4 separate regions of the Homo sapiens genome follow, and all the other regions are linked to region 2. Evidence: fine-mapped expression QTL. A gene starts in region 2. Each other region holds a variant in brackets. All regions are shown on one strand. Distances are between the middles of the regions.

Region 1 (5,472 bases), 21 kb after region 2:
CTGGTTAGCCATATGCAGAAAACTGAAACCAGACCCCTTCCTTACACCTTATACAAAAATTAACTGAAGATGGGTTAAAGACTTAAATGTAAAACCCAAAACCATAAAAACCCTAGAAGAAAACCTAGGCAATACCATTCAGGCATAGGCATGGGCAAAGACTTCATGACGAAAATGCCAAAAGCAATTGCAACAAAAGTGAAAGTTGACAAATGGTATCTAATTAAACTAAAGAGATTCTGCACAGGAATAGAAACTATCATGAGAGTGAACAGGCAACCTACAGAATGGGAGAAAATTTTTGCAATTTACCCATCTGACAAAGGTCTAATATCCAGAATCTACAAGGAACTTAAACAAATTCACAAGAAAAAAACAAACAACCCCATCAAAAAGTATGCAAAGTATATGAACACACACTTCTCAAAAGAAGACATTTATGTGGCCAACAAACATATGAAAAAAAGCTCAACATCACTGATCATTAGAGAAATGAAAATCAAAACCACAATGAGATACCATCTCATGCCAGTCAGAATGGTGATTATTAAAAAGTTAGGAAACAATAGATGCTGGTGATGCTGTGGAAAAATAGGAGCGTTTTTACATTCTTGGTGGGAATGTAAATTAGTTCAACGATTGTGGAAGACAGTGTGGTGACTCCTTAAGGATCAAGAACCAGAGATACCATTTGACCCAGCAATCCCATTACTGGGTATGTAACCAAAGGAATATAAATCATTCTACTATGAGGACACATGCACATGTATGTTTATTGCAGCACTATTTACAATAGCAAAGACATGAAACCAACCCAAATGCCCATCAGTGATAGACTGGACAAAGAAAAGGTGGTACATATACACCATGGAATACTATGCAGCCATAAAAAAGAATGAGTTCATGTCCTTTGCGGGGCCATGGATGAAGCTGGAAGCCATTATCCTCAGCAAACTAACACAGGGACAGAAAAGCAAACACCACATGTTCTCACTCATAAGTGGGAGTTGCACAATGTGAACACATGGACGCAGGGAGGGGAACAACACACACCAGGGCCAGTCAAGGGGTGGGGGGGTGAGGGGAAGGAGAGCATTAGGACAAATAGCTAATGCATGCAGGGCTTAAAATCTAGATGATGGGTTGATAAGTGCAGCAAACCACCATGGCAAACATAACCTATAAAACAAACCTGCATATTCTGCACTTGTATCCCAGAACTTAAAGTAAAATAATAATAATAAAAAGATGTCACAGAGGACTCTGTTCCCTCCTCCTTCCAAAATGCTTCCAGCTTTACCTATGATCTTATTTTTTTTTGAAAGCCAGTTGTCCAGACTTGGTGGTTTTGCTTTTATTATCATTTGAGTTTTTCATGAGCTGCAGGGAGCAGGATTTGAGCCTTTTCTTGGTGTTTCTACTCCTCTATGTTCTGCTGCCTAAAGAATAAGTGTGTAGATTCAGAAGTAGTAATGACCAAACCTCTTGATAACAGCCATAGGGCTCATTTATTAAGCACCTGCTGCATACCAGGCTCCGTGCTTGCCTTCATCCTCCCTCACCTTACCAGGGTGGGTTTTTTATCCACTTTTGGCCCTTTGCTAGCTGGGGTCCCCTCAGACCCTGGTCCTATAAGGGACTCACACGAGGACCCCCTCAAGGCAATAAAGGGAGGATTAAAGAGCTGAGAGGTACAGAGGGAGCAGCCAGCATCAGGCTCCCAAGAAGCCCTCAATAAATGGCAACTGGTTACAGCCTCTCAGCCCTCTAGGGATGCCCAATGCTGCTGGTGTCTTGATGACTTGACTTCTTCAAGTGACACCCTTCTTACTGTGCCCATAAAATGTTTGCATGTGGTAGGGAGCAAGTTAATATTTACAAATGCAAGTATGCCTAATATGTGTTTCCTGATGACTGCTATAGGAGGTGCAGGGTAATAATTAGCAATTTGGAGACACGTTTAGGACTCATCTACAGGGAGAAACTACCCTCATTTTTCTGATTCTCCAGTTTGTGTGCTTTCAGGACCCAGGATAGATTTCTGCCTGTTGGGGTGGCCTAGATCTTTGTCTCTTGTAATGAATTAACGATGAAGAAATCACCCACCTTTGGCTTTCTTAGTACTCAGTGATCATTGTTTTTGGACCCAACCTGGCCCAACTGAAGACCTAGATTCCAAGAAACCTTCCCTCTTTTCAAATTTGGGACTTGGCACAGATTAGACCTGCTAACTAAAAAAAATAATGATTGATAGGAAGGCCAAAGGAAATAGCATTTATCTGGGAAATAAAGAGTTGCAATTTGGGAACCCTGAGTCATGGTAGTCCTGAACAGTGTCCCATAGGGCAATGCAGGAAAAGTTTTGTACTGGGGACTTTCACAAAATGTTGTTTTTGAAAACAGTTCATTGCCTGGCAGAAATGCTAAACTGCAAACTCGTATGAATTGGTTACTTAATTAGGACACTCCAGGATGAGAGAAATCAAAATCCCATGTACCTTGACTTCAGTCCATTGTTATCCAGGTCTACAGCAACATCCTGTGGCTTGACCTTTAGCAGGTGTGAGTGCAATGCTCTTACAAACGCTTGACTCCATGTTAAAGCTTTAGCCTTAACTACTTCATTTTCTTTCAAAAACTGTACTGGAATATTTGTGAAAAGAATGAAAAATATGGAATAAATTCATAAATACACAAAGAGAGAGAGCTCTAGGTATATGTCAAGTCTGGATTAAAGACAGATCTGTGTTTATTTTTATGAAGCATCTTCTGACTTTGATCCAAAGCAAAACTTCTTCCATGGCCCCATTTAATCCTTGTTGCACCCCTGGGAAGGGAAAATGCTGCTGTCCCACTTTGCAGATGAGGGGCTGCATGTTCCAGGCCACCCCTCTCATGGGCTGAGCAGCCTGGTTGCAGGTCTCATGGTGGCGCCACTTTGCCATTGTTCCCTACTTTGGCTTCTGTAAACACCCTCTCTGAGGTTGGTGAGCTCTCCTGGGGAAACAGGCTAGCACCAGTTAATACACAGAGGGAGAACAATCAGTAACTTTGTTCCTGTGCCCAGATTGGTGGAAGTCACCCTATGTGGAGAGGAGGACTTTGAACTCAGACCTGGACTTCCCTCTGGGACCTTTCCCTACACTGTCTGACCTGGGGCTGGTCGTCACCTCTTCCAACCTTTGCATCCTGCTCTGTAAAATGAGAATAAGAACACCATCCTCTCCACATTATTAGAAGGATTAAAATTAATGTATCTGAAGGTTCTTAACAGTGTCACACACTCATCGTTAGTGATTGTCATCTCAGTCATGTCTCCTGTTTATCGATG[C/A]CCCTTTTGTAGCCAAACCCTCTGCCCCCGTGGTATTGGGCCCTGCGGCGAGGACCACACCTGAGCATACAGTGAGTTTCACCTGTGAGTCCCATGGCTTCTCTCCCAGAGACATCACCCTGAAATGGTTCAAAAATGGGAATGAGCTCTCAGACTTCCAGACCAACGTGGACCCCACAGGACAGAGTGTGGCCTACAGCATCCGCAGCACAGCCAGGGTGGTACTGGACCCCTGGGACGTTCGCTCTCAGGTCATCTGCGAGGTGGCCCATGTCACCTTGCAGGGGGACCCTCTTCGTGGGACTGCCAACTTGTCTGAGGCCATCCGAGGTAGAGGACCCTCACACCCAGCCCAAGCCCACACCTGGCTGTCAAGCCCACTCCCCTCTCCCCAGGCTGTTGCTCCAGAGGTTGAATGGCCTGTAATCTAATCCCTGACTATACTGCCCGCCCGCCATGCACCTAGGTGTGCTGGTCACTTACTATCATTTTATTGGCAGCGGTCAGGGGACCAGCAATCACGTGCCAAGCTCTGCGCTAGAGAGTTTCATTTATCTCACCAAGAACAACTACTATTAGTGAGTACCTACTATGAGCCAAGTCCCTATGTGCTCGGCGATTTCACTGATTTTGCTACAGTTCTTACATTCCAACTGCATGCCAGGGGTTGTGCTTGTAGATTTCACTCATTCTTAGCCTAGTAGGAGCTACCAGTCCTTGAGCACCTACTGTGCACCAGGCACTGTGCTTGGTAATTTCATTCATATGCAAAGAGCGCCCTCAATGTCTTAGCATCTGCTGCCTGCCTAGCACTGTCCTGGTGATGCCCTCACCGTGGTAGTGGGAGTTAAGTTATGGAGCCCTCCCTGTGATCTGTCTGTGCCAGAAGATCAGAGCTTCTACCCTGTGCTGTTTCAGTTCCACCCACCTTGGAGGTTACTCAACAGCCCATGAGGGTGGGGAACCAGGTAAACGTCACCTGCCAGGTGAGGAAGTTCTACCCCCAGAGCCTACAGCTGACCTGGTCGGAGAATGGAAACGTGTGCCAGAGAGAAACAGCCTCGACCCTTACAGAGAACAAGGATGGTACCTACAACTGGACAAGCTGGTTCCTGGTGAACATATCTGACCAAAGGGATGATGTGGTCCTCACCTGCCAGGTGAAGCATGATGGGCAGCTGGCGGTCAGCAAACGCCTTGCCCTAGAGGTCACAGTCCACCAGAAGGACCAGAGCTCAGATGCTACCCCTGGTGAGGTTACTCAAAATTTTTAAATTTTGTCTTTTTCTCTCATTTTAAAAGTAATATCCACACTTGCTGTAAAATAAGCTAGAAGTCTATAAATACAAAGTAAAATTTTAATGTCAGCTCCATCCCCCCAAATCCCACATGCGAAGAGTCATGACTAGTAAGAATTTGATGCACAAGTTAATAGAACTTTTGACATAAATATATGTTTAATTTTTTTTTTTTTTGAGACGGAGTCTGGCTCTGTCGCCCAGACTGGAGTGCAGTGGCGCGATCTCTGCTCACCGCAAGCTCCGCCTCCCGGGTTCACGCCATTCTCCTGTCTCAGCCTCCCGAGTAGCTGGGACTACAGGCGCCCGCCACCACGCCCGACTAATTTTTTGTATTTTTAGTAGAGATGGGGTTTCACCGTGTTAGCCAGGATGGTCTCGATCTCCTGACCTCGTGATCCGCCCGCCTCAGCCTCCCAAAGTGCTGGGATTACAGGCGTGAGCCACCGCGCCTGGCGTACATAAATATATATTTAAGGAGCAAAGAGGCAGGCAGGGGGAACCATCTTCTCATAGAGTCCTTTGCCTTCCCTTATTCCTTGAGAGTTGTTGTGCCCGTTTCTCATCAGCCCACCCTTGTGCTCCCTACTTTTTCTAACCTCTGCTTTGTTTCTGTTTCATCCAAACTTTTCCATCCTCATTTATGACCTCATCCCAGTACACCCTGACATCTGCTGTGTATGTTTCAGAAAGACAAATGTAGTTTAAAACTGTACCAGGCCTGGCGGCTCACGCCTGTAATCCCAGCACTTTGGGAGGCCGAGGCGGGCGGATCACGAGGTCAGGAGATCGAGACCATCCTGGTTAACACGGTGAAACCCCATCTCTACTAAAAATACAAAA
Region 2 (5,472 bases):
GTATATTTTTACCTATCCACATTACTTTGTTTGGGTGTGTCTCTGTGCTGTACCACAGGAAATTTCCCCTACATAATCACCCAGCTTACTAACTTACTATTATACTTATTTATGTATAGTCAGCTAGTCAACCTATTAAGTTTTTTTAAAAAATTTCAGCACTGATTATGTTTTCATTTCCAAAGTCTGTGTTTTGGTATTTTTTCAAGATGGTTGTTGTTACCTCATGCCCGCCTATTTCTGTTTCATATTATTACATGCCTGATGTTGGTTTATGAATTTACTTCTCTTTTGTTTTCCTTATAAGATCATTAAGTATACTAACTTTAAAGAACTTTACACATTTTGTTTTTTCATATTTGCTCAGGTGTGAAGTTCTTTTGATTGCTATTTGTTTTTGAGTTATTGTTTTTCTTGAATTTGTTAGCTGCAGTGCTGTTCCTCAAATCTTTGGTGATTCTTGCTTGCACTTCCGTCTTCCCAGGAATAATTCCCCATGTGATCATGGGTTGTCAGGGCCTCGTGGAGCATGGCACCTGCCCCAGCCTCACTATGAGGGCTGCTCCTAATTGAGGCTATAGCTTCTTCTCTGCTTTCTTCCTGAGGGATGTCTCTCCCTTCCTGCAAGAGGTATCATAGTACAACCATTAAAAGTGAAGGCTGTGGAGTGTGGCAGCCTATGTTCCAGTTCTAAAAGCCGGGTGATCTTGAGCAAATTCATTACTCTCCATGTGCCTCGGGTTTTCTCACCTGTGAAAGGAGGTTAATGGTTGAGCTTACCTCATGGGGTCAGAGCAATGATTTAATGACATTACCAATAGAAAAATGCTTGGCACCATATCTGGAGCACAGGAAACTCTCAATAAATGATAGCTGTTATAATTCCTTCATGTCATATAGAAGCCAATTGCTTGTATTCAAGTGTAATTAGACATTGATTCATATATTCTTTTCATTTTGTGTTTTCACTACTGTGGGTGTGGAGAAGGAGGGGAAGATTTCACCCTGTGTACATCTGCCACATTAAAACAGGACTTTCAATTAAAACATGATAACATTTACAATTTGATTTGACAATTATTCATGACAGATTAAGAACCTAAAACCCACATGTGAGATGAAGGATTCTGGACAGGTCTTTCTTAGTCATAGATGCTGGAAGAGAAATCATTTCTTTTAACAAGGTGGCTTTTCTAAGGCACAACGGTGGCAGAGAACCAGTGGACTCTTCCTGTACACAGAAAATAATTATAGCCATGTTTTTTTGCTTATAATTAATTATGAGTCAAGCATTCAGTATGGCTTATATTATTCCTACCATAGCTCTACAAGGTGCATATTCTAACATTTATTTACATACAATCAAACCAAGGCTCAGAGAAGTAGTGTCTTTTTGAAAATCACACAGCTGGAAATTGTAAGAGGAGGAATTAATCTATGGTTGAACAAGGAGCGGGATTTAGAGAATCCAGAGGGAGAAACTGATTTCAGGGTGGCAGCGAGAGTCCAAATACACTATATAAGCTGGGTCTCAGGAGGCCTGGGTTGCTGGGAGAAAGCCACTGGTGGGCAACTCAGCATGCAGGAGGGATCCATTCAAAAGCAACATTTGAGTTCCCGCACTTCACCTGGCACCGTGAGTATCAATAATGACCTACTGGGTTTCAGGCATGATATGCTCATTACCTCTTTAATCGTCACTAAAACACTGCACAAAAAGACTTACTATTCCCAGTTTAGGAGATTGAAACTGAGCATAGGAGGGCCCAGCGACTTCCCCAACTCCTTGGCACACACTCTTGGCAGGAGCATGGATTTTTCCTCTTTCCTCATTTCCCATCCGAACTCAGTGATGAATGAAATAGGTGCTCTGTGTGTAGAAGAAAGGGTATTGAAATTGATGCGACGGCCCCAGGAACCTGCCCACCATAATCTTCCCTCATGATAACCCTATCCCCTTTCCATAACCCACAATCCCCACCTCACTCCACAAAGCAGTTGCTTATTACCTCAAACCCAGTTTCTCTCCTGGAAGGAGTCAAGAAATAATTCCTTCTGCTGGGTGCAGGCACATGAAAGTGCTAAGGTCCACAAGAGACTGAATTTGGGCTAAGTGTTGCCAATTATAGCAATTTGGAATAGAAAATCATTTCAGGAGAAGATCTGGTTCCTCTCCAGTGTTGAGCAGGTCCTGTGAACTCTTCTCCTACGTCCAGCGGAGTGGCATTTGGTTGAGGCTGGTGCAGAACAAGACCACAAGCCAACCACATCCTAGGGTCTTGAAATAAAGACTTTAGAAAACAATACCTAACAACAGATCTTTCTTGACTTAAAAGCCTCAAATGGCAAATCACCAAGAAGACCTGAAAATGGGTTTGGGGACACGAGGAGGGAGCACAGGTCCCAGGCAGGCAGGAAGCATTATTTCTGCTAACCCTGTCTGATTATCCTGAAAATGGAGCACGATTAACTCCTTGCTTTGTAGCTGCCTACTGTGCCTGATTTGTAAGTCACAATCTAGAAGCAGGTTACTGTTGCATTCCATCATAGCCACTTCCTCTTGAATTGAGGGAGGCAGGGCTTGTCTTCTGTCTTCAGAGCAGGGCCTGACATCTCCCCAGAACAGACGTTTGAACAGAGCAGGCTTCTGAGGTCTCCAAAATGCCTGTCCCAGCCTCCTGGCCCCATCCTCCTGGTCCTTTCCTGCTTCTGACTCTACTGCTGGGACTTACAGGTGAGCATTGCATTGGGCTAGAACCCTTTCTCCCTGCTTCCTGGACCTAGCCTTGCCCCTGGACTTGCAGCAATTTCAGATAAGCACAAGCACTGCCAAGGAAGGTCAAGGACTGGACATTGTCCAAGAGCAGAAGATCAGGGAGCTGAGCACTTTCTCTGTGGATCTGCAGCTGGCTACCAGAGGCATCAAACCTTGTGAGGCTTCTGCCACCATCACAATTAGTTACATTTTTATAATATTTTATTTGACAAACACAGAAGAATCATTATTAAATCCTTACCTGTCTTGAGTCCTCCTACCCATTTTTGTGTGCCCTCCTCCTCTTTAAGAAGTTCCACATTTCATGCTTACAGCGTCCTATATTCCTTTCTTAGGGCTTCCACAACAAAGCACCACAGACTCAGTAACTAAAACAATAGACATTTACTTTCTTTCTTTCAGTTCTGGAGGCTGAATTGCAAAATCAAGATGCCAGCAGGGTTAGTTTCTACTGAGGTCTTTCTCCTTGGCTTGTAGAAGGCCATCTCCTCCATGTGTCTTGACACATGGTCTTCCTCTGTGTGTGTCTGTATTCTCATTTTCTCTTATGAGAACATCAGCCATATTGGATTAAGGCTCCCCGCCAGTGACCTCATTTAACTAAATTGCTTCACCCATTTATGCCTAGTGCTCCGTTATTGGATCACTAAGCTTGCGGGAGTTATTTATATCCTACTGCTCAAGGGCATCGCCAAGGTCTGATTTTTCAAATTAAAAAAAAATTGCAACCTCGGGCATAAATGGGTTAAAGACCTTGTCTCCAAATATGGTCAAATTCTAAGGCGCTGGGGATTGGGGCTTCAACCCATTCGTTTTGGGGGCACATTCAGCCCATAACAGGCACCACCATCTCCCTTGGTCATCTTGACTTTCCTCTGGAGAATTTATTTTCCCTTCCCCCAGGCAGACAGGATTGGGAGGTCTTTCCTGGTGCCACCTGAGAGAGCCCTGTTCACAGCTCCCAGACAGGCTGCCTGTCTTCACCCCTTTTTCAGACCATGCAGCTGACCCCCGGTCACAGGGCTGGGCACAATAGCCTCTCAGTTGCCCACTGGGCCCTGCTGTGATGTCATCTCACAGGTCTTAGAGGGCAAGGTCTCACTTTTCAAATTATTTTTTTTACACATACACTGTACCCAAATGACAGCAGTAATAGTTCAGCAATTGCTCTCTTCCTGTAAGGCAGATGCACTTCTTAGCATTTTGTGTGTATTAAGTCAACTAATCCTCACAGCATCCCTGTGTGGAAGCTATAACTCTTGTGCTCTATTTGCAAATGGGGAGTGAGGCAGAGGCAGGAACCTGTTCATTGTCCCCTACTTCAGTCCATGGAGCAGTTGGGATCAAGTCCAGGTTGACCAGTTCCAGAGTTTATCACCCTTTTAACCATGTTATGCTATGTGTAGAAATATTAGAAAATGCAGGCAAGCAAACATTAGATTAATAATCACCCATCACACCAGTCAGAAACAATCAGAGGTAAAACACTAGTGTATGTATGTTTTCCCAAAATGTTAAAAATGTGTTGGATGGTTTCTATGTGCCAAATATTTTACTGAGATTTTTAAATTTGTCATAATTGTAATTAATGCACAAAACAACCTTATATACTAACATGATAAGCCAAACTTTTATATATATTTGTGAATGTGTATATATACACATTATATACACATATATATGCACATGTGCCTATGCATGTACATGTACATGCACAGATGAGATTTCATTTTTAATCATTGGTTCTCTTTCTATTTTCAGTGAAATTTTTAACAAAATAAATATTTTATTTTATTTTTATTTGACAAAAGTATGTATACTTATGTACAACATATTAAGAAATATGCATACATTGTGGAATGACTAATTTGAACTAATAAACATATGCATTACCTTACATATTTATCATTTTTTATTGTGAGAACTCGTAAACTCTGCTCTCTCAGCAGTTTTCAAGAATACAATTCATATTATTAAGTATAAACACCACATTGTACAATAGATATCTTGAACTTATTTCTCTTATTTAAATTGAAATTTTGTATCCTTTGACTAATATCTCCCCAACTACACCCCCTCTCTAGCCCCCGATAAACACCATTCTACTTTCTACTTCTATGAGCTCAACTTTTTAGATTCTTCATACGTGAAATCATACAGTGTTTGTCTTTCCGTGCCTGGCTTATTTCACTTAGCAGAATGTCCTCCAGGTTCATCCATGTTGTTGCAAATGACAGGGTTTCCCTTTTTGTAAGGCTGATTAGAATTTCATTGTGCATATATGCTACATTTTCTTTCTCCATTTATCTGCTGATAGACACCTAGGTTGATTCCATATCTTGGCTTTTGTAAATAATGCTGCAATGGACATGGGAGTGCAGATATATGTGTGACATGCTGATGTCATTTCCTTTGGATATATGCCAGTAGTGAGATTACCAGATCAGATAAGAGTTATATTTTTAATTTCTTGAGGAACCTGCATACTGTTTTCACTAATGGCTCTACTAATTTATATTCCCACCAACTGTCTGCAAGGGTTCCCTTTTCTCCACATCTTCTCCAATACTAAATTTCCTCTTTTTGATAATAGCCATTCTTAAAGGTGTGAGATGATAGCCCACTGCGGTTTTAATTTGCATTTATCTCATGAATAGTAAGGTTGGATTTTTTTTTATACGCTGACTTGCCATCTT
Region 3 (5,472 bases), 73 kb before region 2:
AGTCTAGAGTCCACATGGCAAGCAGCCTCAAGAGATGGTTACTTAGCTGAAGGAGGGAAGTGGGACATGACTGCTTTCTCATTCCAGTGCCTCTCTGGGCCTGATAATTGAAAGGGGCATTGCATTCCTCAGATTAAAAGGTTTTTGTGCAATTTATATTAAAATACGGATGTACCCAGAATTTATTTAATTACCCTTTACTTTTTCCTGCTGTGTATTGTTTTTAAATCATTATGTAATCTAAGGGTAGCATTATGCTTTCTGTCAGGCCTCCAGCCCAAGCTCAGCCATCATATCCCCTGTGACCTGCATGAATACATCCAGATGGCCTGAAGCAAGTGAAGAATCACAAAAGAAGTGAAAATGGCCGGTGCCTGCCTTAATTGATGACACTCCACCATTGTGATTTATTCCTGCCCCACCTTAACTGGGTGATTAACCTTGTGAAATTCCTTCTCCTGCCTCAGAAGCTCCCGCACTGAGCACCTTGTGACCCCCACCCCTGCCCACAAGAGAAAAACACCCTTTGACTGTAATTTTCCACTACCCACCCAAATCCTATGAAATGGCCTCACCCCTATCTCCCTTTGCTGACTCTCTTTTCAGACTCAGCCTGCCTGCACCCAGGTGATTAAAAAGCTTTATTGCTCACACAAAGACTGTTTAGTGGTCTCTTCACATGGATGCACGTGACATTTGGTGCCATGACTCTGATCGGGGGACCTCCCTTGGGAGATCAATCCCCTGTCCTCCTGCTCTTTGCTCTGTGAGAAAGATCCACCTATGACCTCGGGTCCTCAGACCAAGCAGCCCAAGGAACATCTCACCAATTTTAAATCGGGTGAGTGGCCTCTTTTTACTCTCTTCTCCAACCTCTCTCACTATCCCTTAACCTCTTTCTCCTTTCAATCTTGGCGCCACCCTTCAATCTCTCTCTTCCCTTAATTTCAGTTCCTTTCCTTTTCTGGTAGAGACAGAGGAGATGCGTTTTATCCATGAACCCAAAACTCCGGCACCAGTCACAGGCTCGGGAAGACAGTCTTCCCTTGGTGTTTAATCACTGCGGGATGCCTGCCTGATTATTCACCCACGTTTCAGAGGTGTCTGATCACCGCAGGGACGCCTGCCTTGATCCTTCACCTTAGTGGCAAGTACCACTTTGCTGGGGCACAAATACCCCCCACCCCTTCTCTCCATGTCTCTACCCTCTCTTTTCTCTGGGCTTGCCTCCTTCACTATGGGCAACCATCCACCCTCCATTCCTCCCTCTTCTCCCTTAGCCTGTGTTCTCAAAGACTTAAAACCTCTTCAGCTCACACCTGACCTAAAACCTAAACACCTTATTTTCTTCTGCAATGCTGTTTGACTCCAAAACAAACTCGACGATGGTTCCAAATAGCCAGAAAACGGCACTTTCAATTTCTCCATCCTACAAGATCTAGATAATTCTTGTCATAAAATGGGCAAATGGTCTGAGGTGCCTGACATCCAGGCATTCTTTTACACATCGGTCCCTCCCTAGTCTCTGTTCCCAATGTGACTCACCCCAAATCCTCCTTCTTTCCCCCCCACCTGTTCCCTCAGTCCCAACCCCAAGCATCGCTGAGTCTTTTCAATCTTCCTTTCCTACTGACCCATGTGACCTCTCCCCTCCTCCCCAGACTGCTCCTCTTCAGGTCGCTCCCCGCCAAGCTAAATCAGGCTCCGATTCTTCCTTGGCCTCTGCTCCTCCACCCTATAATCCTTCTATCACCTCCCCTGTGCACACCTGGTTCAGCTTACAGTTTCATTCTGAGACTAGCCCTCCCCCACCTGCCCAACAATTTCCTCTTAGAGCGGTGGCTGGAACTGAAGGCATAGTCAGGGTACATGTGCCTTTTTCTCTATCAGACCTCTCTCAGATCAGCCAGTGTTTAGGCTCTTTCTCATCAGACCCCACTAAATATATACAGGAATTCCAATATCTAACTCTGTCCTACAATTTAACCTGGAGTGACTGAAATGTCATCCTAACTTCTACCCTATCCCCAGATGAATGGGAAAGAGTTTTTTCTCCAGCCCAATCTCACGCTGATAACTGCCGGCTTCAAGAGCCAGACCTCCAGGAAGGCATTAGAGCAGTTCCCCGAGAGGATCCCCAATGGAACTATCAGGCAGATTCCCCAGGTATAGCTAGGCAAGATTATATAATTTCCTGCCTAGTTGAAGGGTGTAAAAAGGCAGCTTACAAAGCTGTTAAAGAACTGTTAAAGAACAAAGCTTAAAGAAACTACCCAAAGTAAACATGAAAACCCC[G/T]CCCAGTTCATGGCTGGTTTGGCAGCAACCGTGAGATGCTTTACAACGCTAGACCCTGAAAGGTCAGAAGGCCGTCTTATTCTCAATATGCATTTTATCACCCAGTCAGCTCCTGACATTAAAAAAAACTTCAAAAATTAGAATCCGGCCCTCAAACCCCACAAAAGGAATTAATTAACCTCGCCTTCAAGGTGTACAATAATAGAAAAGAGTTGCAATTACTTGCCTCCACTGTGAGAGAAACCCCAGCCACATCTCCAATACACAAGAACTTCAAAACACCTAAATCCACAGTGGTCAGGCATTCCTTCAGGACCTCCTCCCCCAGGATCTTGCTTTAAGTGCCAGAAATCTGGCCACTGGGCCAAGGAATGCCTGCAGCCCAGGATTCCTCCTAAGCTGTGCCCCATCTGTGTGGGACTTCACTGGAAATCGGACTGTCCAACTCACCAGGCAGCCACTCCCAGAGCCCCTGGAACTCTGGCCCAAGGCTCTCTGACTGACTCCTTCCCAGATCTTCTTGGCTTAGTGACTGAAGACTGACATTGCCCAATCACCTCGGAAGCCTCCTGGACCATCACAGATGCTTTGGGTAACTCTTACAGTGGAGGGTAAGTCCGTCCCCTTCTTAATCAATACGGAGGCTACCCACTCCACAGTACCTTATTTTCAAGGGCCTGTTTCCCTTGCCTCCATAACTGTTGTGGGTATTGACGGCCAGGCTTCTAAACCTCTTTAAAACTCCCCAACTCTGATGCCAACTTGAAGAACAGTTTTTATGCACTTCTTTTAAGTTATCCCTACCTGCCCAGCTCCCTTATTAGGTTGAGACATTTTAACTAAATTATCTCCTTCCCTGACTATTCCTAGGCTACAGCCACACCTCATTGCCGCCCTTTTCCCCAGTTCAAAGCCTCCTTCACATCCTCCCCTTGTATCTCCCCATCTTAATCCACCATTTTGGGACACCTCTACTCCCTCTTTGGTGACCGATCATGCACCCCTTACCATCCCATTAAAACCTAATCACCCTTACCTGATCAATGCCAGTATCCCATCCCACAGCATGCTTTAAAAGGATTAAACCCTGGTATCACTTTCCTGTTACAGCATGGCCTTTTAAAGCCTATAAACTCCCCTTACTATTCCCTCATTTAACTGTCCAAAAACTGGACAAGTCTTACAGGTTAGTTCAGGATCTGCACCTTATCAACCAAATTGTCTTGCCTATCCACCCCGTGGTGCCAAACTCAGATACTCTCCTATCCTCAATACATCCCTCCGCAACCCATTATTCTGTTCTGGATCTCCAACATGCTTTCTTTACTATTCCTTTGTACCTTTCAGCCCAGCCTCTCTTCACTTTCACTTGGATTGACCCTGACACTCATCAGGCTCAGCAAATTACCTGGGCTATACTACTGCAAGGCTTCATGGACAGCCCCCATTACTTCAGTCAAGTCCAAATTTCTTCCTCATCCATTACCTATCTCAGCATAATTCTTCATGAAAACACACATGCTCTCCCTGCTGAGCATGTCCAGCTAAACTTTCAAACCCCAACCCCTTCTACAAAACAACAACTCCTTTCCTTCCTGGGCATGGTTGGATAGTTTCACCTTTGGATACCTAGTTTTACCATCCTGACTAAACCATTATACAAACTCACAAAAACAAACCTAGCTGACCCCATAGATCCTAAATCCTTTCACCACTCATCTTTCCGTTCCTTAAAAACAGCCCTAGAAGCTGCTCTCACACTAGCTCTCCTTAACTCATCCCAACCCTTTTCATTACACACAGCCGAAGTACAGGGCTGTGCGGTTGAAATTCTTACACAAGAGCCAGGACCACGCCCTGTAGCCTTCCTATCCAAACTACTTGACCTCACTGTTTTAGACTGGCTCCCACATTATTCCAGATACCACACCTGACCCCCATGACTGTATCTCTCTGATCCACCTGACATTTACTCCATTTCTCTATATTTTCTTCTTTCCTGTTCTTCACCCTGATCACACTTGGTTTATTGATGTCAGTTCCACCAGGCCTAATCGCCACTCACCAGCAAAGGCAGGCTTTGCTATAGTATCTTCCACATCTATCATTGAGGCTCCTGCTCTGCCCCCTCCACTACCTCTCAGCAAGCCAAACTCATTGCCTTAACTCAGGCCCTCACTCTTGCAAAAGGAGTACATGTCAATGTTTATACTGACTCTAAATATGCCTTCCATATCCTGCACCACCATGCTATTATATGGGCAGAAAGAGGTTTCCTCACTACGTAAGGGTCCTCCATCATTAATGCCTCTTTAATAAAAACTCTTCTCAAGACCACTTTACTTCCAAAGGAAGCTGGAGTCATTCACTGCAAAGGCCATCAAAAGGCATCAGATCCCATCACTCAGGGCAACACTTATGCCGATAAGGTAGCTAAAGAAGCAGCTAGTGTTCCAACTTCAGTCCTTCACAGCCAGTTTTTCTCCTCATCAGTAACTCCCACCTACTCCGCCACTGAAACTTCCACCTATCAATCTCTTCCCACACAAGGCAAATTGTTCTTAGACCAAGGGAAATATCTCCTTTCAGCCTCACAGGCCGATTCTATTCTGTCGTCATTTCATAACGTCTTCCTTGTAGGTTGCAAGCTGCTATCCCACCTCTTAGAACCTCTTATTTCCTTTCCATTGTGGAAATCTATCCTCAAGGAAATCACTTCTCAGCGTTCCATTGGCTATTCTACTAGTCCTCATGGATTGTTCAGGCTCCCTCCCTTCCCTACACATCAAGCTTGGGGATTTGCCCCTGCCCAGGACTGGAAAATTGACTTTACTCACATGCCCCAAGTCAGGAAACTAAAATACCTTTTGGTCTGGGTAGACACTTTCACTGGGTGGGTAGAGGCCTTTCCCACAAGGTCTCAGAAGGCCACCGCAGTCATTTCTTCCCTACCGTCAGACATAATTCCTCGGTTTGGCCTTCCCACCTCTAAACAGTCTGATAATGAACCGGCCTTTTATTAGTCAAATCACCCAAGCAGTTCTCAGGCTCTTAATATTCAGCGGCTCCTGGTTTTATCTCAAACTACCACCTTAAGTCTCTCTTAAAGTGGATAAATGATCTTTGCTGACAGGGTACACTCCAATACTTTCACCCTGATGAAGTCTTATTCTTTAC
Region 4 (5,472 bases), 29 kb after region 2:
TCCCAGCTTACTGCCAGTGAAAGTTTTATCAATTGCATCCCAGCCATGGTGCCCAGCCCCACTCACTGCCAGCCCTGAGGTCCTCATTGCGAGCTGATGAGTATTCAGGCTTCAAATTTATATTTTAGAGTAAGCTTTACAGACAACTTACCAAGGTCAGTTTCTCTGTAAGGCAGACTAGAGATGGATACAGGAATGCAGGAAGCATCCTGAAGAGCTGTAGGGTCAGCATGCCTCAGGAAATGGGGAGGCAGGACTGTAGGAGGAGCGAGGTGCTGAGCTACAGTGCAGGTAGAACAAAGACCCAGCTGCTCCTGCGGAGGATCCCAAGGGCTGAGAGCGTCATGTAGTGTTTTTTAATTGAGGAGAGAAGCGTGGCCTTCCTATTTTCAATTCAGCCAATCTTTCTTGTGGGCTGTCCCCTAGAAGGAGGAGTGAACTTGGAATTGGGCAGTGCAGCTTTCCTCAAGGGAGAAGAAGTCCCAGAGAGCCACCCAGCTGAGAACTGCCGGCCTCCAACACCCCAGCAGCCACAGATGCTGAGTTCTCCATTTCTTCCTTAAGGACCCACCAGCACCATTTTATTTATTTAAAATATACTGTAATATCTTTAATGGCCCAAACTGCTCGCGTTAAAAATGTTGATTTTAAAAGCCTGAACTGCTCATGTTAAAAATGCAGCGTCCAAACATGTGCTTCCCCGTAACTGAGTGTGCCCAACTAACAGAAAGATTTCAGATGACACCTGCACTGGGGTGGAGGTGGCCTAGGTGACATCTGAGGCCCTCCCAAGCATGAGACCCATTTCCGTGACTCACCAGGATGTTTTCTAGCCGGAAGGTTTCATTATGTCCAGTGTTCCATGGCTCCTCCAAGTTCTGAGAACACGGAGTCCTCCCCTTACTTCTGGGGCTAAGCAGGGAACCTGCAACTCTCATTGTGAAGCCATCCTCAAGCCACCTGCCTACCCTTTTATAGTCATTAAAATGTCCCTAGGAATTTGGACTTGTTTTGTTCCAAAGGACATGGTCTCAGGGATCAACCTAAGGAACACTAGTGATGAGCTTCTTTAGGTTTGAATGCAAGTAACCTTGTGACCCTCCCTAAAATCCATGGGCCTCAGTTTCCCTAGCAGAATGGAATGACAATCCCTGCTCCCATAGGCTTGTGAGGGTCAAGTGAGGAACCCCGTTGCCACATGTATGAATACCTGAGTACACACCCCCTCCACCTCTTCCCTCCAGGAGAATAAGCTGGCAACCTGGGACAGGATGAGTGAGAATGGGGAGCCTCTTTCTGTGGCTTCTGCCTTGTGCTGGAGTGAAGATAGCCTGGGCAGGATGCAGGTTCAAAGGTGGGGCATAGATGGGCCCAGGCAGCCTCAGATGGGGTAAGTGGAGGCCCCTACAATGGCCTCCCAAGTGGTCTCTCTCATAGCCCCTCGTCTTCCCTGATTTCCAGGCCCGGCATCATCCCTTACTGCGCTGCTCCTCATAGCTGTCCTCCTGGGCCCCATCTACGTCCCCTGGAAGCAGAAGACCTGACTGTAAGTACAAGGAAGGGAGGACAGACCAAGGGCTGTCTCAGAAGGGCAAGGCCAACAGGAAGGCCCAGCCCACATGCCATGCAGCACCAGGGTCCGTGGAGTTAAGCTCCCTCCGCACCCTCGGAAGTCTTGGGGAACCCTTTAAAAGGCTCCCAACCCACAGAAATTATGTGGGTGGTGTACAATGTGGGATGCTTGAAATGTGTTCAAAGATGTCCACAGTGCCCTAGGAGTTTCATGGAGGCAGTGATGAGTGGGTGGTCCCTTGCAGGCTATCTGTAGATTATTTGAATGCTGGGACTCCATGGGGTCAGAGAAATCCACATTGTAAACTAATGTTGAGAAACCCAAATGGGAAGCCCTGAAGGCTGTTTGTGCTCTGACCCTCTGTGTGTCTGAGTGGAAGGAATATTGGAAAGGGCATCAGGACTTGGCAGGATGGCTGAGCAGGCAGAGTTCTATCAGGACTGCCTGTCCACCAGTGACAGGTATCCCAGGAGACCAGCCCCGAGAACATAACAGACTCTCAGGAAACATGTCTTGAAAGATGAGCAGATGACTAAGTGTGGATGTGTTTTCCTACAGCTCCTTCCTTCCTCCCCTGCCACGTGGGACCCTCATCTCTGCTGCCTCCTTCCTTTCCTGAGAGGCTCAGCTTGAGAGAAT[G/A]AGCCAGTGAGAAGCTTCTCTAGACTTGGCTCCAAACATCTCCCCTCCCAAGACATCTGCCTGCCCACAGGCTCCTGTTGCTCCTTCACACAGACCTGGATGCCCCAGAGCAAGGTCTTCATTCATGGTCCTGAGCAGGTGCCATGGGATTGGGCTCTGGGCACTGACTTAACGGCACCTCCCTAGAAGGCGAGAAACATGCCAAATCTAAACACACCAGGACTCCCATCCATCGCCTTGAGACTGACCGTAAACCACAGACGCTCTCCAGGTTCTCAAGAGTTATCCTGCCTTCCAGATTCCTGCCTATCCCAACTCCCCAGCCTTGTTGAGGTTCTCTATTGCCTCTTGAATACAAATGCACTCCCAAAGTGGTTTTAAGAAAATAAAAAGATTATCCTTCCTCTTTGTCTAAGGGTCCTACTCCTCACACTCAGAAACAAAGAAGCTCTCCCTGCTCTCTCTGTGATGGGAACACTAGTTCTAGCATCCTGCAGGCTTCCCCGCCCTGCTGCTCATGGCGGAAATGCTGCCGCAGTCCAAAAGCCTCCTTGACTCCCGAATCCTCCCTGATGTCTCTTTACACCCCATATTCAATTCTGCCTTCAAAATACTTATGTCCACTCGTGAGATGGTAAGTGTTTAAAAATGGACTCTCTTAAAGGAAAAAAAAAGCTGATTTGTTGTACTTGACAATTTCTGTGGTATAATCACCCCCAACATGGCCAGTTTCAAGCTACCAGAAGTTTAACAACTGGATTGCAAAATTCCTGAAACTTAACGGTTGGCTTTCAGGGGCCAGTCCAAGCCTGCTGCAGGAGAGCACTGAGTTACATCCCTAACCTGCACACTTCTCACCTCCATCACCCCTCCCTGTCCCGGCCAGCATCATCTCTTCCGGGAACACTTCTGTAGCCTCTGTTGGCTTTCATTTTTCAGCTACAGGGATTTTTGGAAAAGTCAAATTGTATCACTCCTCTGCTTCTTCCCCAACACAGCTGCATGGCTCCCTTCATCCCTCCTTCAAGCCTCTGCTCAATGTCACTTTATTAAAGGCACCTTTGGCAAACCACCCTGTACATAATATCAATTCTCCTGTCTACCCTGGCATTCTAATTTCTCTTATCTTGATTAATTTTTATTTAGCATTTATTACCATAAGCATTATAACGAATACAGGCAGCCCTCGCTTTTCACAGCAGTGCAAGATTGCAAGAATGACTGTGCAGCCGGAAACCCAGGAAAGCAATCTCCACATCCAATCAGAAAAACAATGATCATATTGTGACCTTTACAATTTTTTGTCAAAATATAGGAAACTCTCATAGTGTCAGTTACAAATGTAGAAGGCAATAAAAAATAATAAATGAATATTTATTAGTACCCTGTAATTCAAAACATTGGAAACATCAAGTGTTTCAGTATTTTATTTCTTTGTAAAAATGTTTCAAGAGTAGTTGGAAGAGTGCTTACCTCCTTCTTGTACACTTCGGATATGGAGCAAACATCCTTTCTATCTGGGTGTTTTATCACCTTCCTCTCTAAGTTTGGATTTGTTTCCAGCACCTTATCATTTGCACTTTCAGTGTCGTGAAATCTCTGCAAAAGTTCCTTTCACGTGAAGATTTTTGCTGTTGTCACATCCTCAGGGACACCTTCGCCCTATTTGTCAGTACCCCATCCCGTATCTGTTAAATTCACCTTCTCTAAGTCCTGCGGGCTGCCTATCTGAAGTTTTTCAAACACTACCAGGGTCTACGTTGCCTCACCAGCTATTCATGCTTCTATAACTCCACTGACATACAATTTGAACTTTATCTCCAGCATTTTCACTGCTCATTTATTCACTGCATTTTCACTGTGGTTGTCCAATCTCTCTTTCAATTATTTGTTTCCCAAAAATGTCACATGGGCTCATCACCAGTTACATGAGGTTGCAGTCTTATGTGAGCCTGTGCCCCTGGCCTGTGGACTTCACAAGTGCCTCTCAGTTTTTTCCCCTATGGTGGGACAGGATGGCCAGAGGGGGCTGGAGTTGGGTGCTTGCCTTCCCCAGGTAGGTTAGGCTCTGATCAAAGCCCAGCAGATTAGGCACTGGTAAAATAGTTTCTCCTGAGAGCTGGGCTTGGTAAGAAGAAAGAATGCTCTGGTGTAGTTCAGAATGATTCGCTTTCCCCTCCACACCCCCCAGGAAGCACAAGTGAATGTTTCTCTCATATTCACTCTGAGCACCTAATCAAGCTCCTGGAGGTAAATCTCACAACAGTGTTGGAGTTCCCTGCGATTGGGTCCTGCTGGAATCTGTTCCTCAGACTGGCCCACACCAAGCCTCTAGCAATTCTTCAATTACAGTGCAGGTTTTCCTACCCTGGCACTGGTTCCCATGGAGGTTTTGGCTTCAGGAAGTTGTAATTCTCTATATCATTTTGTCTAACTTCCAGTTTTGGAGACAATGGTCTGCTCTGTGACCTCATTTCTCTGACAGACCTGAGAAGAGTTGCCATTTCTTATTTGCTCAGCTTGTTACTTGATGTTGGCCCTAGGGACTTTTTGCAGGGGACATCCAGGAGTTTTGGTTCCATCCTTAAAGGCTGCTACAGTAACAAGACCTCAAACTTTCCACACCCAGAATTACAGTCTCTGAAAATCCAAACTCAGTCCTTAGCTACAGGGCCCTGTGGATCAGGGCTGTCAACTGAGGAAGGGCCAAGGGAACCCTGGCATGAAGTGAGTGCCCCTGGGACAGAGAGCAGGCCCAGAGCAGTCAAACTGTCTCCACTACTGTCCAAGGCTCCCAGGCGTGGGAACCCCAAGGTGGATATCAGCAACTTCCCAGGGGTGGCAACTCTGCCTGCTTCCTCTTTTACTATGAGACCATGCCAGTCTCGTGGCCTTTTCCTTCCACAGCAAATTCCCTCCTCAGATATCATGGCAGGTGGGGCTTCTCCTTCCCTGCAGAGCTCAGAGGCTGGGGTCTCTCCGTGATAAACTTTCAACAGAGCAGGCAATGACCATACCTGTCTTCCAGCCCACCTGGACAACCCTTGCCTCTTTATGCTATTGGGACTCACAGGTGAGAGCAGCCTGTTCTACACAGGTGTATTTATATGTAAGTCTCCTCACCCTCTCAGCCCATCTCACCCGTATCTATGGATTTCCATTTGGGAACATTTTCTTCTCTCCCATCCCAGCAGGAGACAAGATTTGGAGTACACTTTCCGTGAGCATCTGTGCAGACTCTTACCGGGATTTGCCTTTCT

What was found.
Region 1: its variant is fine-mapped to the expression of SIRPG in whole blood (TOPMed, PIP above 0.99).
Region 3: its variant is fine-mapped to the expression of SIRPG in whole blood (TOPMed, PIP above 0.99).
Region 4: its variant is fine-mapped to the expression of SIRPG in whole blood (TOPMed, PIP above 0.99).

Annotation. Positions count from the first base shown.
Region 1 is chr20:1,634,377-1,639,848 of GRCh38, reverse strand. SIRPG (signal regulatory protein gamma) reads left to right here. Exons shown (of 6, transcript NM_018556.4): 3 at 3,344-3,661; 4 at 4,250-4,582. SIRPG-AS1 (SIRPG antisense RNA 1) reads right to left here. Exons shown (of 3, transcript NR_110090.1): 2 at 2,499-2,643. Among named protein-coding and RNA genes, the nearest start is that of SIRPG-AS1, 3.6 kb to the right of the region's middle. RefSeq lists an enhancer at 3,934-4,759. The variant C/A (reference allele first, on the strand shown) is at 3,332.
Region 2 is chr20:1,654,904-1,660,375 of GRCh38, reverse strand. It overlaps SIRPG (signal regulatory protein gamma), which reads left to right and starts at 2,597. Exons shown (of 6, transcript NM_018556.4): 1 at 2,597-2,734. The coding sequence starts at 2,662.
Region 3 is chr20:1,728,361-1,733,832 of GRCh38, reverse strand. LOC124904858 (a long non-coding RNA gene) reads left to right here. Exons shown (of 3, transcript XR_007067498.1): 3 at 607-657. Among named protein-coding and RNA genes, the nearest start is that of SIRPG, 73 kb to the right of the region's middle. The variant G/T (reference allele first, on the strand shown) is at 2,296.
Region 4 is chr20:1,626,296-1,631,767 of GRCh38, reverse strand. It overlaps SIRPG (signal regulatory protein gamma), which reads left to right. Exons shown (of 6, transcript NM_018556.4): 5 at 1,462-1,546; 6 at 2,132-2,616. The coding sequence ends at 1,544. Among named protein-coding and RNA genes, the nearest start is that of SIRPG-AS1, 4.5 kb to the left of the region's middle. The variant G/A (reference allele first, on the strand shown) is at 2,213.